Linked DNA regions of Homo sapiens: region 1 is linked to region 2. A link means that fine-mapping ties the variant in region 2 to the expression of a gene that starts in the linked region. Tissue or cell type: skeletal muscle. Region 2 holds a variant in brackets; the other region holds the start of a gene. All regions are shown on one strand. Distances are from middle to middle.

The links. PIP is the estimated chance that this variant, and not a neighbour inherited with it, causes the effect.
Region 1: it holds the start of CHRDL1, and the variant in region 2 is fine-mapped to the expression of CHRDL1 in skeletal muscle (GTEx, PIP above 0.99).

What each region holds. Positions count from the first base shown.
Region 1 is chrX:110,792,415-110,800,525 of GRCh38, reverse strand. CHRDL1 (chordin like 1) reads left to right here and starts at 4,709. Exons shown (of 12, transcript NM_001143981.2): 1 at 4,709-4,782.
Region 2 is chrX:110,484,507-110,492,617 of GRCh38, reverse strand. No RefSeq gene overlaps it. Among named protein-coding and RNA genes, the nearest start is that of CRIPTO3, 32 kb to the left of the region's middle. The variant A/G (reference allele first, on the strand shown) is at 3,081.

The DNA.
Region 1 (8,111 bases), 310 kb before region 2:
ATACAACAGAGAAAAATTTCAGTAACAAACAAGAACATACACAAATAACAAAAGGGCTCATTAGAATATAGCTGAATAATCCTAAGGGGTCTTTACAGAGAATTGTCAACTTCTATATATTGAATCAAGTATCTGATTAATACAAACTCTAAGTTGGTGGCATCTTTTCTAAAAAGAGGTAAACCTATAGTACAATATACTCATCAATCTTTATGTATTCTGCCATTTTTGAAAGTTAATTTAATAACCTGAGTTTTCTAAGTCCCAGTGGGACAAGAAGCACTAAAAGGCAAAAAGTTTGTGCTATCAGAAAATTATTTTGTATATAATCATTTCATAATACCTCCACTTACATATTTATTTTTTAAATAAGTATGAGTTCTGCAACACATGGCATAGAAGATCAGCACACAACAACTACTTGCATTCATATATACTAGCAATGAGTGCATGGAAACTGAAATTAAAAATACAATAACATTTGCAATTGCTCCAAAGAAAAAGAAATATGTAGATACGAGTCTAACAAAATATGTATAGAAGTCATATGCTGAAAACTACAAAACACTGGTGAATGAAATCAAAGAAGACCTAAATAAATGGAGAGATACTGTGTTCATGGATTGGAATGCTCAACAAATTAAATTTGTCAATTGTCCCCAAATTGATCAATAGGTTTAATGCAATTTCTAGCTAAATTCCAGTAAGATATTTTGTAGACATAGACAAGTTTATTCTAAAGTTTATGTGGAAAGGTACAAGACCTAGAGTAGCTAAAACAACCCTAAAAAAGAGGAATAAAGTGGGAGGACCCACTCTACTTGAAATTCAGGCCTACCATATGTCTACAGTAATCGAGACTGCGTGGTACTGGTGGAGGCATAGACACATAGATCAATGGGATCAAATAGAGAAGCCAGAAATAGATTCACACAATATGACCAACCAATGTTTGATCAAGGTGTAAAAGCAATTCAATGAAAGAAAGATAGCTTTTTCAACAAATGATACTGGAGCAATTGGACAAAAATATATAGGCAAAATATGAACATCAACCTAAACCTTATACCTTTTATAAAAATTAACTCAAAATAGATCATAATTAAATGTAAAACTTTATAACACTTTTAAAACAAAAATATAGAAGAAAATATTCAGGATCTAGAGCTAGGTAAAGGGTTCTTAAACTTAATGCCAAAACATGACCTATATGACAGAAATTTGATACATTGGACATAAAACATTAAAAAATTTTGTTTTGTGGAAGTTCAAGGGAAGAGGATGAAAAGAAAAGCTACAGACTGGGATAAAATATTTGTGATAAGATATACAGGTGTCAAATAAACAATGAAAAGATGGTAGATATCATTAGGTTTTAGGGAAATGCAAGTTAAAACCACAATGAGATATCACTATATACCTACCAGAATGGCTAAAATAAAAAATAATGACAACAAAAAATGCTGGCAAGAATGCAGATAAACTGGATCTCTCACACATTTCTGGTGGGAATATAAAATAGTACAGTTGCTCTAAAAACAGTATGACAGTCCTTACAAAACTAAACATGCATTTACCATACAACCCAGGAACTACATTGTTGGGTATTTATCCCAGAGAAATGAACACTTACGCTTATTCAAATACCTGTAGACAAATGTTCATAGCAGTTGTAACCGAAATCTAGACTCAACCCTCCAATAGATGAATGGTTTAAACAAATTGTGATATATCCCTACCATGGAATACCACTCAGCAATGAAAAGGAACAAACTATTGATACCAGGAACAACTTGAATGGGTCTCCAGAGAATTATATCAGGGTTGGGGGAGAAGAGAGAAGAGACTATCTCAAAAGGTTGCATACCGTATGATTCCACGTAACATTCTTAAATGACAAAATTATAGAGATGTAGGACAATTTAGTTTAGTAGTTGACAGGGAGTAGGGAGAGGAGGAAGGGAAAAGATGGGTGTGACTATTAAAGTGTAATACAGGGTATCCTTGTGGTAATGGCGCTGTTTTATATTTTTACTGTGGTGGTGGTCACATGAATATACACATGCGATAAAATTGCATAGAATTATATACACAGGCAAATGAGTGCATATAAAACTGGTGAAATCAGAGTAAGATGAATGGATTGTACCAATGTCAGTGTCCTGTTGTGACATTGTACTATATTTATGAATGATGTTATCATTGGGGAAAACTAGGTGAAGGGTATTTGAGATCTTTCTGAATTATTTCTTACAACTGCATGTAAATCTACCATTATCTTAAAATAAAACTTTTTAAAAAATGAGTATGAGATTATGCTCTCATCCCTATTTAATAAACAGAGAAAATAAAGCATGAAGGTAATCATCACTTAAGTTTCTATAAGACCTGGTAGGATGTCTAGATTAGGACTCACCCAAATGGGAGTTCTCAATTCAGAAATCAAGATTGGAACTAATACAAAATACAAGGATGACTAACATTTACACTAATGAAAAACCTGTCAGAGAATTCCAGCAGCCCCATATACAGTTGCCTGCAACTGCATAAGAGATCTTAAGCAAGTTCAATAGAATCAACTCAATAGAACCAATTGAGAATAATTGCTTGCTTTAAGCCACTAGGTTTTCGGATGGTTTGTTATGCAGTAATTAGGATTCTACACCAAGCAAGGGAGTGAGTGGTTGTAGCCAAATAGATGAACTTTTAAATCCCAGTGAGTCTATTTATTTTAAATGCTAGAATTTATGTTTGTCTCAGACTATCCCTTGAAACTCATTTTCCAGAATACTCTGTAAGCATGTTGGAAGTAATGATGGGAGTTGGGTAATGCACGCACAAGAGAAATTGAACAACCAGTCCTTGCCCTTGAAGAACTCACAATCTAGTAAGACAAAACATCACTGCATTAAACGGCATGAGAACAGTTATAAGGCAACAAATCAGCAAGTTCAAACCGATATACAACAGCACAAATTGAATGCATGTGGCAGTGTATGGCTACCCAGGCAGCAGGACGGAGCTAGACATTTTGGGCCCTGAAGGCAACATTACAGAAAGGGCCCCCTTTCCTTTGTTAACAGTGAAATAAACATCACCAGCAATGCAGGGGCTAGCTGGATACTATTAACACTTCTGAAAAAGCAAAAGGAGGTAACGTTCAGGGACAATTATTCTTGTTTTAATTTTTCTTTGTTTTCTGTTCCTGATAAGTGGTTTGTTTGTTTGTTTGTTTGTTTTTTTGACAAGCCACAGTTTCTCTGAACATCAATTTCCTCATCTACAGACTGGAGATAACAACCAGAGAGTAGTGGGTTGAAAGTCAGGGAATCTGGATTGGAATCTCAAATTTGTCATTTACTAGCTGTGTGACCTTAGATACATCATCCTCTTCCCCCAATTCAGTTTCCTCTTCTGTGAAATGATGAAGTTAAGCTGAATGGTTCAGAAGTTCCCCACCAACTCTAACACTTGAGACCTCAGGTAGTTCGGTTGGTTTTGAGGGTTTAAAAAGTAATGTTGATGTATGTGAAAACACTCCGTAAGCCATAAAGTACTATACAGATGTTAGGAATATAGATATTTATCTAGTTCATCTAGAAAAAAGCTCTGCGGTTCTTCTCCAAATTTAGGGGCTTAAAATTTTGTCTGTCGAGGCAGCACTTTCCTGGACCCTAGAAGTTTCTGACAATTCTTTGCAACTATCACTTGTTGAATAAACACAAATTTGGAGTAGGCAGGCCCACCAAGGCATCAGCAGTGCTACTGTGATTTCCAGGTTGAGCTCTTGGCCCAACTTAGAAGCTTAGGGACTCATTTAAAAAAAAAATGGTGGGTATAGTGTGTGGCACCAAGTTTTCTTCAAGACACTTAACAGTTAGAACAGGCCCTTTCCATGAGGCTTGGGAGCCCAGTTTGTAAGAGAAAGTGGATTTCTAATCCCTGACCCTACACACACCCATCTCCACCCCGCCTTTAAGGACACCAAACCAAAGCTTTGTCACTCTGTTAGCCACAGTGTGGATATGGGAAACGCCGTGAAATGATAAGCAGCATGCTAGGGCGTGATTTGCGAGGAGGGTTCATTCTGTGTCCAGGGCACCAGCTCAGTACCAGACCAGGTGCACACCTCGGAAAGGCCTTGGTGCCGGAGGAGAGCGGGTGTGGGCTTCCAGGCAGGGGAGTCAGAGGGTAGTCGGTATCTTCAGGGCGTGCGCGAGTGGTGGGGAGCTCCTAGGTGCATCCAGTGCAGAGGGGGAGGAGGGACCGGAGGAGCTGTGCGGTCCCTTTAAGACCCCAACGCTCGCCTAGCCAAAGGAGTGGGGGCTGCAGTGGGGGCGCTGTGTGATGGGAAAGTAGCCGGCTGAGTCTCACACTTTCTCCCGATTTTTAAACTTTCGGGCCGGGGGAGCAGAAATAAAGCCATTGTGCCGGGGTGGAGAAAGTGTGCGTGCTTGCAGCGGCTGCGTGCTTGCGGACTTCCCGCCAGCGCCGAGCGGCCGGCTTCTCGGGCCAAGTGGGGAGCGAGCGGGAGGGCGGGCAGGTGGCCCCGGGCCGCCGCGCCCGCGCCTTGGCTCTGCCCCCGGGAGCCGAGCAAGCCGCTGCTCCCTCGTGGTGTGAGGGCGGTGATGTTTTTCCTCCCACCCACTTTTGAGTTCCCCCTCCCCCCTCGCGCGCACTCTAGCTCTCGCCACAACCTGCCAGCCCCAGACCTCGGACGAGAGCGCCCCGGGGAGCTCGGAGCGCGTGCACGCGTGGCAGACGGAGAAGGCCAGTGCCCAGGTTAGTGAGCAGTGCCCGGCGCCCGCTTCCCTCACCTCCTTTTCCAGCCTTTGCACAGGTGGGTTGCCTTCTCTTGGCCGGAGCCGTCCCTGGAAGTTTCCCCAGGGTGCCCCAAATTCCCCTGCCACCCCAACCTGTTCTGTGCTCCAGCAGTTAGCAACCTGGATGGAGGTGGGGCCCAAGGCTTCTGACCAAAGCAAGTTGGGGGTCTCTGAATTCGAACTCACAGCTCGTCCCTCCCCACTCGGCCTGCATTTCTTTATGCTCTGGCGCTTTGAGAGGTCACTTAGGTACTCCACCCTGAGCTACCCAAGGGACTCTGCAGTCCCCTTAATCACTGCCTGTATTCCTGAGCCTGTTTTCTCATTTTGCTGATGAATACATGGTAAAGTTAATGTAGCAGGGTAGATGGGCGAAAGGCTCCCTATCCTATCCTCTGGCCATCTGCCTCATTTTTTGTCCCTGACTACGGGGGTCAGAATTTGAGACACTAGGCTCTGGAAGCAACGTGGTATATTGCCAGAACATAGGGCCCGGAAAGCCTGCTTTCCAGTCCCTCCCAGCCCTGCCACTAAAGTTATTTGAGTTCTCTGGGTCCCCCCAGTGCCCATTTTGAAGGTGGAGTTGTGTGGAATGAAATGAAATGATAGAAAGGTGTTTTGCAAGCCAAATGCGAGGCATTGTTTGTCAGTCATAAGCAGCAATGAAAGCATTTCCTCCAACAAGAGATACCCTGGGTTAAAACTGCCATTTTCAGTGGCAACACACCACCAGTTAACTGAACTTTTCTTGCTGGGTGGTAGAGTGGGGAGAGGATTTCAGCTGATGGACAAGGGCCTGGGACTCCAGTGTCTTTCTTATTGTTTGTCGGAAAGAAAATTGCTACCCTAGGGGCTGTCCCACAGATGATAGTCAATGTGAGATTACAAGGTCAGTCAAGCCTCTCAGGAGGATTAAAGAGACACTGTGGGGCGTGAAGAACTGGCTGACATGTGTTCATCCCTTAGCCTTCCTGTGGGGATGTCTCTTTGCTTCTGTTCTACCCAGGAGACCTGTTCTGAAAGTGGGCTCCTGACACTTGATGGCCCAGATTGCCTTGCAGTCACAGCTGGGCAAGGAGCAGTTGGTCCCTTTGCTTAACGCAGATGAACAATGTGAATGCTTGTTTCATGGAAGCACCTTAATAAATACCTTTCTTTTGGTACTTGATACATTTCTCTTTCTCTTGTAAAACACAGGAACTCTCCCATCCCACCTCCACTACCTGTGTTAGTTGCAGGGTTTTGTTTTTTTGTTGTTGTTGTTGCTTTCTTGTTGGGTCCTGGATCCCCTGAAGCATGTCAATGGCTACATGTCTAAGTAACCTGTAAAAGAGCCAGTGCAAGTTCAATGGCACAACAGCCTGTGTGAAGCAGACAGAGAGTTAATGCAGAAATAACTCCAGTTAACTGGGTCAAAGTATAATTTGAAAAATTAAGGACAGTTTGGCTCTTTGCAAGAATAAGAGTCGGCTAAGTTCGCTGAGCAATGCTTGCTAGTGTTTACTGCTGCAGTCCCAACACATGTTTTGAACCACCCCCTTCCCTAAAAGAAAAAGCTGAAGAGATAAAGAGAAATTGAACAGTGAGGAGATCTGGGGAGGGAACTCTTCTTGGTTCATATTTCTGCACAGAATACAAAGGCAGGACTTCAGGATCTTGTAAATCAAAAGTGAATATTTATAAAGCGATTCATTTTCTGATGTTCTCCATCACAGCCTGGGAGGCCACACAGATGACAGGAACGCCAAAGGAGATTAATTGCTCTCTAGTTACCAACTTTTTTATTTGCTCATAATATTAGTTGGGACCTAAGAAAGGCAAAAAAATCTATGAGCTGTTTTCTTGCCAACTTGAGTTATGAAGCAATGCTACAGTTCACCGAATCGCCCAACCATTATACAAGAAAAGCAGCCCTGTTGATTCTCGCATGGGGAGACCCTAAAACCATGGTTTCAGAAACACCCGTTGAAATCCATATATGAATGTGATAAATTGGATTTCAGTGGTTAAAAATCTTTCTCTTTTGGAGGCTTGGGGAATAAACTTATTAGAATAGGCTCAGGAAGAACCTCACTGAGGTGGGTAGCTGTGTTAAATTGTTAATGAAAATGATTTGTTTCGAATAAACGTGGTAGCCCTCAAGGGACAGTAACATTCTGAGTGATTGTAAGTGGGCCACAAACTCACAGAGGGGACCAAGACATCAGAACTCAGGTCTTTAGATGGGTAGGAACATGTCCTGAGAGAATTTGGTTCTTTAAGGAGCAGGGAGGAGGTAAAGAAGGAAGGCAGACGGTGCTGCAAATCTTGTTTGATAGCACAGATTACTCTATCATCAGTTCTTCCTTGGTTATGCATTCATAATTGAAACAGTGGATTTTGAATGACCCAGGCAACTTCATAGCATTTAAGTAGGAGCTGTAGCATCTACTTCAGAGCCCAAAGATATTCAACTCTCCAAAATGATCGTTTTGCATTCCTTCAAGTTCTTTATGTGCAATATTTAGGTTGGACTTTCTGGAAAGATCAATGAGTTCATTTCCCATTCAGATTGAATCTGGTGTTTTTAGAACATTTCAATATTTTCAGATCACCCATTGGAGGAATTTTGCAAACTCTAACATCTGTGGAAATGATCCGTGACTAGATGTGAGCTACAGCAAACTTTCTGTGTTCCAAGGTTCAAAAGGTTTAAGATTTCTACCCCTTATACTGGGAATGCCAATCTCATGTTTTGAAGAACTGTAGTTGTTTTAATGGTCTTTTGCATGGTGGTGCAAGGTGAACAAATTATCTATTTAATTTGCCCAATTTCCCCTAAAAATGGCCCATTTAAAATTTCCATTTTACAATGGACTTCTTGGGGGAGGAATATGTTGGAACCATTTTAAGCAGTAAAACTTTTCAGGTGTTTAATTGCATCCATTTGCTAATTACATCTATCTTTTGCAATATTAGTTGCCAAACCAAAGATCCTTGTAGATCTCATAGAGGACACAGGAGAAACTGATCAATTTGTACTTCATTCCAAAAGGATTAAAAGTAGTCTTGAAGCTAAGATTAGTTAACTTTCATTTCAGAAATTGCTTGGTCTCATGCTTGTTACTTTTACCTTGTTTGCTAAAATAACCGTTTTTGCAAGCTAAAGTTTCCCTTTTCTCCCAAAAAAATCTCTTGAGAAATCAACTTTAATTCCCTTAGAAAGGAAGATTTCAAAATTTATTTTCATTTTCCTATAACTTGCCTGTAAGGACTTAGCCTCAGCTTTGGATAGGAATGCACCCTCAT
Region 2 (8,111 bases):
AGGTGAAACACTTGTTCAGTGAAAACTGCAAAATATTGCTGAAAAATAATTTTTAAAACCCCCAAAATCGGAAAGACATCCCATCCCATGGTCACAATTGGAAGACTCAATATCGTTAAGATATCAGGGGGATTAAGATGGCGGATAGGAGGCAGGACTAGCTTGCAGCCCCCACCTGGACAGAGAGAGCAGTGTGTGCAGACTAACATCATTAACTTTTGCTCCAAGAACTACCACAGGAACATACCAGAAAAGCCGAGATAATCCACAGACCCTTTTAAGGACAGGATCACCGCTGCAGGCTCCCTGAGATGCCAAAAACCTGTAAATCTGCTTGCTTTCTCAGCGGGCAGGCTGGTGGTCTGGGGCAAGTTCTCAGCCCTGGTCACCAGCTGCCTGGAAATAAACTCAGTGCTGTTGAGGGGGCACAGTAGGAGTGAGACTGGACTTTAGGACTGTGAGCTGCATGGGAGTGGGATGAGGACTGTGACTGCCGGCTTTCCCCCACTTCCCTGGCAACCTGTATGACTCGGCAGAGACAGCCATAATCCCCCTGGGAGCATAACTCCATTGGATTAGGAAACTCACCCCCATTCTCCACAGCAGCTGCAGGAAGCCCAGCCCCACAGCAGCTGCAGGAAGCCCAGCCCAAAGAGAGGCTGAGTTCAGACATGCCTATCCCTGCCCCCACCTGGTGGTCTTTCTATACCTGCCCTGGTAGCCAAAGACAAAAGTCATAATCTCTTGGGAGCTCTTTGACCCTGCCCACCACCTGAGAAACCTGAATGCTTAACCAGGTATCCCTAGGGCAAGTTTGCCTCCTCCCTATAGGACCACAACTGATGCACTCTTGAAATGCCTACCTCCTGGCTGGAGGCCAACCTACACAAAACCAGTGCACTGAACAAAAACACAAGCAAGGACCCTCACAGAGTCCACTTCACTCCCCTGCTACCTCCAGTGGAGCAGGTGCTGGTATCCATGGCTGCAAGACCTGAAGATGGATCACATCACAGGACTCTTTGCAGACACTCCCCAGTACCAGCCTGGAGCCCAGGAGCTCTGCTGGGTGGCTAGACCCAGAAGAGCAAAACAATCACTACAGTTCAGCTCTCAGGAAGCCACATCCCTAGGGGAAGGGGGTTAGCACTACATCAATGGAGCACCCCGTGGGACAAAAGAATCTGAATAGCACCCCTTGAATCCTAGCTCTTCCCTCTGACATAGTCTACCCAAATGAAAAGGAACCAGAAAAACAATTCTGGTAATATAACAAAACGAGATTCTTTAAACCGCCCCCTCCAACCCAAAAGATCATATCAGCTCACCAGCAATGGACCCAAACCAAGACAAAATCTCTGAATTGCCAGAAAAAGAAATCAGAAGGTTGATTATTAAGCTAATCTAGGAGGCACCAGAGAAACGTAAAGTCCAACCTAAAGAAATAAAAAATATGATACAGAATATGAAAGGAAAATTATTCAGTGAAGTAGGTGGCATAAATAAAACACAATCACAACTTCTGGAAATCAAGGACACACTTAGAGAAATGCAAAATGCACTGGAAAGTCTCAGCAATAGAATGGAACAAGCAGAAGAAAAACTTCAGAGCTCAAAGACAAGGCTTTTGAATTAACCCAATCCATCAAAGATGAAGAGAAAAGAATTTTTTAAAAAGAATGAAACCTTAAAGAAGTTTGGGACTATCTTAAATATCCAAAATTAAGAATAATTGGTGTTCCCAAAGAAGAAGAGAAATATAAAAGTTTGAAAAACATATTTGAGGGAATAATTGAGGAAAACTTCCCCAGCCTTGCTAGAGATCTAGACATCCAAATACAAGAAGTTCAAAGAACACCTGAGAAATTAATCACAAAAAGATCATCACCTAGGCACACCTAGGCACATCAGGTTATCTAAAGTCAAGACAAAGGAAAGAATCTTAAGGGCTGTGAGGCAAAAGCATCACATAACCTATAAAGGAAAACCTATCAGATTAACAGATTTCTCAGCAGAAACCATTCAAGCTAGAAAAGATTGGGGTCCTGTTTTTAGCCTCCTTAAACAAAACAACTATCAGCCAAGAATTCTGTATCCAGCGAAACTAAGCTTCATAAATGAAGGAAAGATAGTCTTTTCCAGACAAACAAATGCTGAGCAAATTCACCAATACCAGGCCAGCACTACAAGAACTGCTAAAAGGAGCTCTAAATCTTGAAAGAATTCCTCGAAATACACCAAAATAGAACCTCCTTAAAGCATAAATCTCACAGGACCTATAAAACAAAAACAATGAAAAAAAACACCAAAATTGGAAAGATATCCCATCCCATCCCATCCCATGTTCACAATTGGAAGACTCAATATCATTAAGATATCAGAGGGGATTAAGATGGCAGATAGGAGGCAGGACTAGCTGAAAAAAAAAAAAACCACCAAGGTATTCAGGCAATGACTAACATGATGAATAGAATAGTACCTCACATCTCAATACTAACATTGAGGCTCATGCCTGTAATCCCAGAACTTTGGGAGGCCGAGGCAGGCAGATCACCTGAAGTCAAGAGTTCAAGATCAGCCTGGCCAACATGGTGAAACCCCCGTCTCTAATAAAAATACAAAAAAAATTAGCCTGGTATGGTGGCACGTGCCTGTAGTCCCAGCTACTTGGGAGGCTGAGGCACGAGAATTGTTTGAACCCGGGTGGCAGAGGTTGGCAGTGAGCCAAGATTACACCACTGCACTCCAACCTGGGCAACAGAGCAAGACTCCATCTCAATAAAAAAAAAGTAATACTAACATTGAATATAAACAGCCTAAATGCTTCACTTTAAAAATACAGATTGGCAGAATGGGTAAGAATTCACCAACCAAGTTTCTACTGTCTTCAGGAGACTCACCTAACACATAAGAACTCATATAAACTTAAGGTAAAGGGGACACCAAAAGCGAGCAGGAGTAGCTATTCTTACATCAGACAAAACAAACTTTAAAGCAATGGCAGTTTAAAAAGACAAAGAGGGGCATTATATAATGATAAAAGGACTATTCCAACAGGAAAATATCACAGTTCTAAATAT[A/G]TATGCACCTAACGCTGGAGCTCCCGAATTTATAAAACAATTACCACTAGACCTAAGAAATGAAATTGATGACAACACAATAATAGTGGGGGACTTCAATACTCCACTGACAGCACTAGACAGGTTATCAAGACATAAAGTAAACAAAGAAACTATGGATTTAAAATATACCCTAGAACAAATTGACTTAACAGATATTTACAGAACATTCTATCCAACAACTGCAAAATATACATTCTATTCATCAGCACATGGAACATTCTCCAAGATAGACCATATGATAGGCCACAAAACAAGTCTCAGTAAATTTAAGAAAATCAAAATTATATCAAATACTCAGACCACGGTGGAATAAAATTTGATATCAACTCCAGAAGGAAGCCTCAAAACCATGCAAATACATGGAAATTAAGTAACCTGCTCCTGAATGATCACTGGGTCAACAATAAAATCAAGATGGAAATTTAAAAAATTCTTTGAACTGAATGATAATAGTGACACAACGTATCAAAACTCTGGGATACAGCAAAAGCGGTGCTAAAAGTGTAGTTTATAGCATTAAACGCCTTCATCAAAAAGTCTGAAAGCACAAATAGACAATCTAAGGTCATATCTCATGGAACTGGAGAAACAAGAACAATCCAAACTCAAACCCAGCGGAAGAAAAGAAATAACAAAGATCAGAGCAGAACTAAATGAAATTGAAACAAAAAAATACAAAAGATAAATGAAACAAAAAGATGGTTCTTTGAAAAGATGAACAAAATTGATGGACCATTAGCGAGATTAACCAAGAAAAGAAGATTGAAGATCCACATAAACTGGATTAGAAATGAAACAGGAGATATTACAACTGATACCACAGAAATACAGAAGATTATTCGAGGCTACTGTGAACACCTGGATGCTCATAAACTAGAAAACCTAGAGGAGATGGATAAACTCCTGGAAATATACAATCTTCCTAGATTAATCCAGGAAGATATAGAATCTCTGAACAGACCAATAACAAGCAACAAGATTGAAATGGTAATTTAAAAATTGCCAACAACAAAAAGTCCAGGACCAGATGGATTTACAGCTGAATTCTATCAGACATTCAAATAAGTATTGATACCAATCTTATTGACAACTATTCTAAAAGATAGAGAAATAGGGAATCCTCCCTAAATCATTCTATGAAGCCAGTATCACCCTAACACCAAAACCAGGGGAGGATGTGACAAAAAAAGGAAACTACAGACCAATATACCTGACGAATAAAGATGCAAAAATGCACAACAAAATACTAGTGAGCCGAGTCCAACAGCATATCAAAAAGATAACCCGCCATCATCAAGTGGGTTTCATACCAGGGATGCAGGGATGATTTAACATATGTAAGTCAATAAATGTGATACATCACATAAGCAGAATTAAAAACAAAAATCACATGATCATTCCATAGACACAGAAAAGACATTTGACAAAATCCAGCATCCCTTTATGATGAAAACAGTCAGCAAAATTAGCATAGAAGGGACTTATCTTAAGGTAATAAAAGCCATCTATGACAAACCCACAGCCAACATTATACTGAATGGGAAAAAGTTGAAAGAATTGCCCCTGAGAAATGAAGCAAGACAAGGATGCCCACTTTCACCACTTCCATTCAAAATAGTACTGTAAGTCCTAACCAGAGCAGTCAGACAACAGAAAGAAATAAAGGCCATCCAAATCAGTAAAGAGGAAGTCAAACTGTCACTGTTTGCTGATGACATGATTGTATACCTAGAAAACCCTAAAGACTCATCCAAAAAGCTCCTAGAGCTGGTCAATGAATTCAGCAAAGTTTCAGGATACAAAGTTAATGTACACAAATCAGTAGCTCTACTACACACCAACAGCGACCAAGCTGAGAATCAAGCAAGAAGTCAACCCCTTTCCCAATAGTTGCAAAAAGAAAAGAAAATACTTAGGAATATGCCTAACCAAGGAGGTGAAAGATCTCTACAAGGAAAACTAAAAAACTCTGCTGAAAGAAATCATGGACGACGCAAACAAATGGAAACACATCCCATGGATGAGTAGAATCAATATTGTGAAAATGACTATACTGCCAAAAGCAATATACAAATTCAATGCAGTTCCCATCAAAATACCATCATTCTTCACAGAACTAGAAGAAGCAATCCTAAAATTCATATGGAACCAAAAAAGAGCCTGCATACCTGAAGCAAGACTAAGCAAAGGAACAAATCGAGAGGTATCACATTACCCAACTTCAAACTATATTATAAGGCCATAGTCACCAAAACAGCATAGTACTGGTATAAAAATAGGCACATAGCCCAATGGAACATAATACAGAACCCAGAAACAAAGCTAAATACTTACAGCCAACTGATCTTCGACAAAGCAAACAAAAACATGAAGTGGGGAAAGGACACTCTATTCAACAAATGGTACTGGGATAACTGGCAAGCCACATGTAGGAGAATGAAACTGGATCATCCTCTCTTACTTTATAGAAAAATCAACCCAAGATGGATCAAAGACTCAAATATAAGACCTGAAACCATACCAGAAGATAACATCAGCAAAACCCTTCTAGACATTCGCTTAGACAAAGACTTCATGACCAAGAACCCAAAAGCAAATGCAACAAAAACGAAGATAAATAGATGGGACTCGATTAAACTAAAAAGTTTCTGCACAGCAAAATAAATAATCAACAGAGTTAACAGACAGCCCACAGAATGGGAGAAAATCTTCACAATCTACATATCCAACAAAGGACTAATATCCAGAATCTACAAAGAACTCAAACAAATCAGCAAAAACAAAACAAATCAAAAATTCCAATTAAAAAATAGTCTAAGGACATGGATAGCCAATTCTCAAAAGAAGATATACAAATGGTCAACATGCATATGGGAAAATGCTCAACTAATTATCAGGGAAATGCAAATCAAAACCACAATGCCACACCACCTCCCTCCTGCAAGAATGGCCATAATCAAAAAAATAAAAAAATAATAGATGTTGGTGTGGATGTGGTGAAAAGGGAACACTTTTATACTGTTCGTGGGAAGGTAAACTAGTACAAGCACTATGGAAAACAATGTGGAGATTCCTTAAAGAACTAAAAGTAGATCTACCATTTAATCCAGCAATCCCACTACTAGGTATCCACCCAGAAGAAAATAAGTCATTGTACGAAAAACATACTTGCACATGCCTGTAATCCCAACACTTTTGGGAGGCCATGGCAGGAGGATTACCTGAGGTTAGGAGCTCGAGACCAGCCTGGCCAACATGGTGAAACCCCATCTCTACTAATAATACAAAAATTCACCGTGTATGGTGGTGTGTGCCTGTAATCCCAGCTATTCAGGAGGCTGAGGCAAAAGAATCTCTTGAACCTGGGATGCAGGGAAGTGGAGGTTGCAGTGAGCCAACATTGCGCCACTGCACTCCACCCTGGGCAAAAGAGCGAGACTCTGTCTCAAAAAAAAAAAAAAAAGATATTAATGCTTCCCAAAGCAACCTATACATTCAATGCCATCCCTATAAATATCCCAAGTATTTTTTTTTGCGGAAATAGAAAAACCCATTCTAAAATTTTTATATGGTATCTCAAGAAACCCTGAATAGTCAAGACAATCTTGAAAAAGAAGAACAAAGTTGGAGGTCTCATATTTCCTGATTTAAAAACTTACTACAAAGCTATAATAATAAAAATAATGTGGTATTGGAACAAAGACAGACATATAGACCAGTGGAATAAAATAGAGTCCCCAGAAATAAGTCCTAGAATATATGATCAAAAGATTTTCTAGAAAAGTGCCAGGATCATTCAATGGGGGAAAGGAAAGTTTCTTCAACAAATGGTATTGGAAATTTGGATATCTACATATGAAAGAACAAAGTTAGACACTTACCTTACAAAAGTTAGAAGAAAACACAGGGGAAAAGCTACATGACATTGGATTGGTAATGATTTATTGGCTATGACACCAAAAACACAGGCAACAAAACAAAAAATTAATAAATCAGACTTTATTAAAATTAAAAACGTTTGTGCCTCAAATGTCATTATCAACAGAATGAAAACACAAACCAGTGAATGGAAGAAAATATTTGCAAATCACATGTCTGATAAGAAGTTAATATCCAGAATATGTAAAGAAACCTGAAATTCAACAACAACAAAAGACAACCCAATTTAAAACTAGGCAAAGGATTTGAATAGATATTTCTCCAAAGAAGTTATACAGATGGTCAGTGAACCATGAAAATATACTCAACACCAGTAATTATTAGAAAATTGTAAATTGAAATGATATGAAGGTACCATTTCATATACATTAGGATGGCTATTTAAAAAAAAAAAAGAAAATAACAAGTGTTGGTAATGATGTGAAAAAATTGAAATCCTTGTGCATTGCTGGTGGGAATGTAGAATGGTGTATCCACTATGGAAACCAGCATGGTGTTTCCTCAAAAAGTTAAACATAGAATTACCATATGATTCAGCAATTCCACTTCTGGATATATCTCCAAAATAATTAAAAGCATGGACTAATAAGATATTTGTACACCAATATTTATAGAAGCATTGTATGATTTCACTTATATGAGGGATCTAGAGGATTCACATTTATAGAGACAGAAAATTGGTGGTGGTTGTCAGAAGATGGGGAAAGGGAGAACTGGGTAGTTCGCGTTTTAATGGCTACAGAATTTCAGTTTGGGAAGATGAGACATTTCTGGAGATGGATGGTGATGATTGTTGAACAATAATATAAATGTATTTAATACCACTGAAGTATACACTTAAAATGACAAGAATGGCAAATCTTGTTATGTACATTTTTACCAGAATAAAAACATTCAGTAACGAGATACGAGCTGAGCTGAAATAGACCAGTAAAAGGGTGATAGGAATCAAAATTTGTGAAACAGCATAAGAGATAGAGTTGGAGACTAGGGGAAGAGTTTGGATTTTTATTTAGGCAAATCAGAATCAACTAGCAGTTTTCAAGCAGA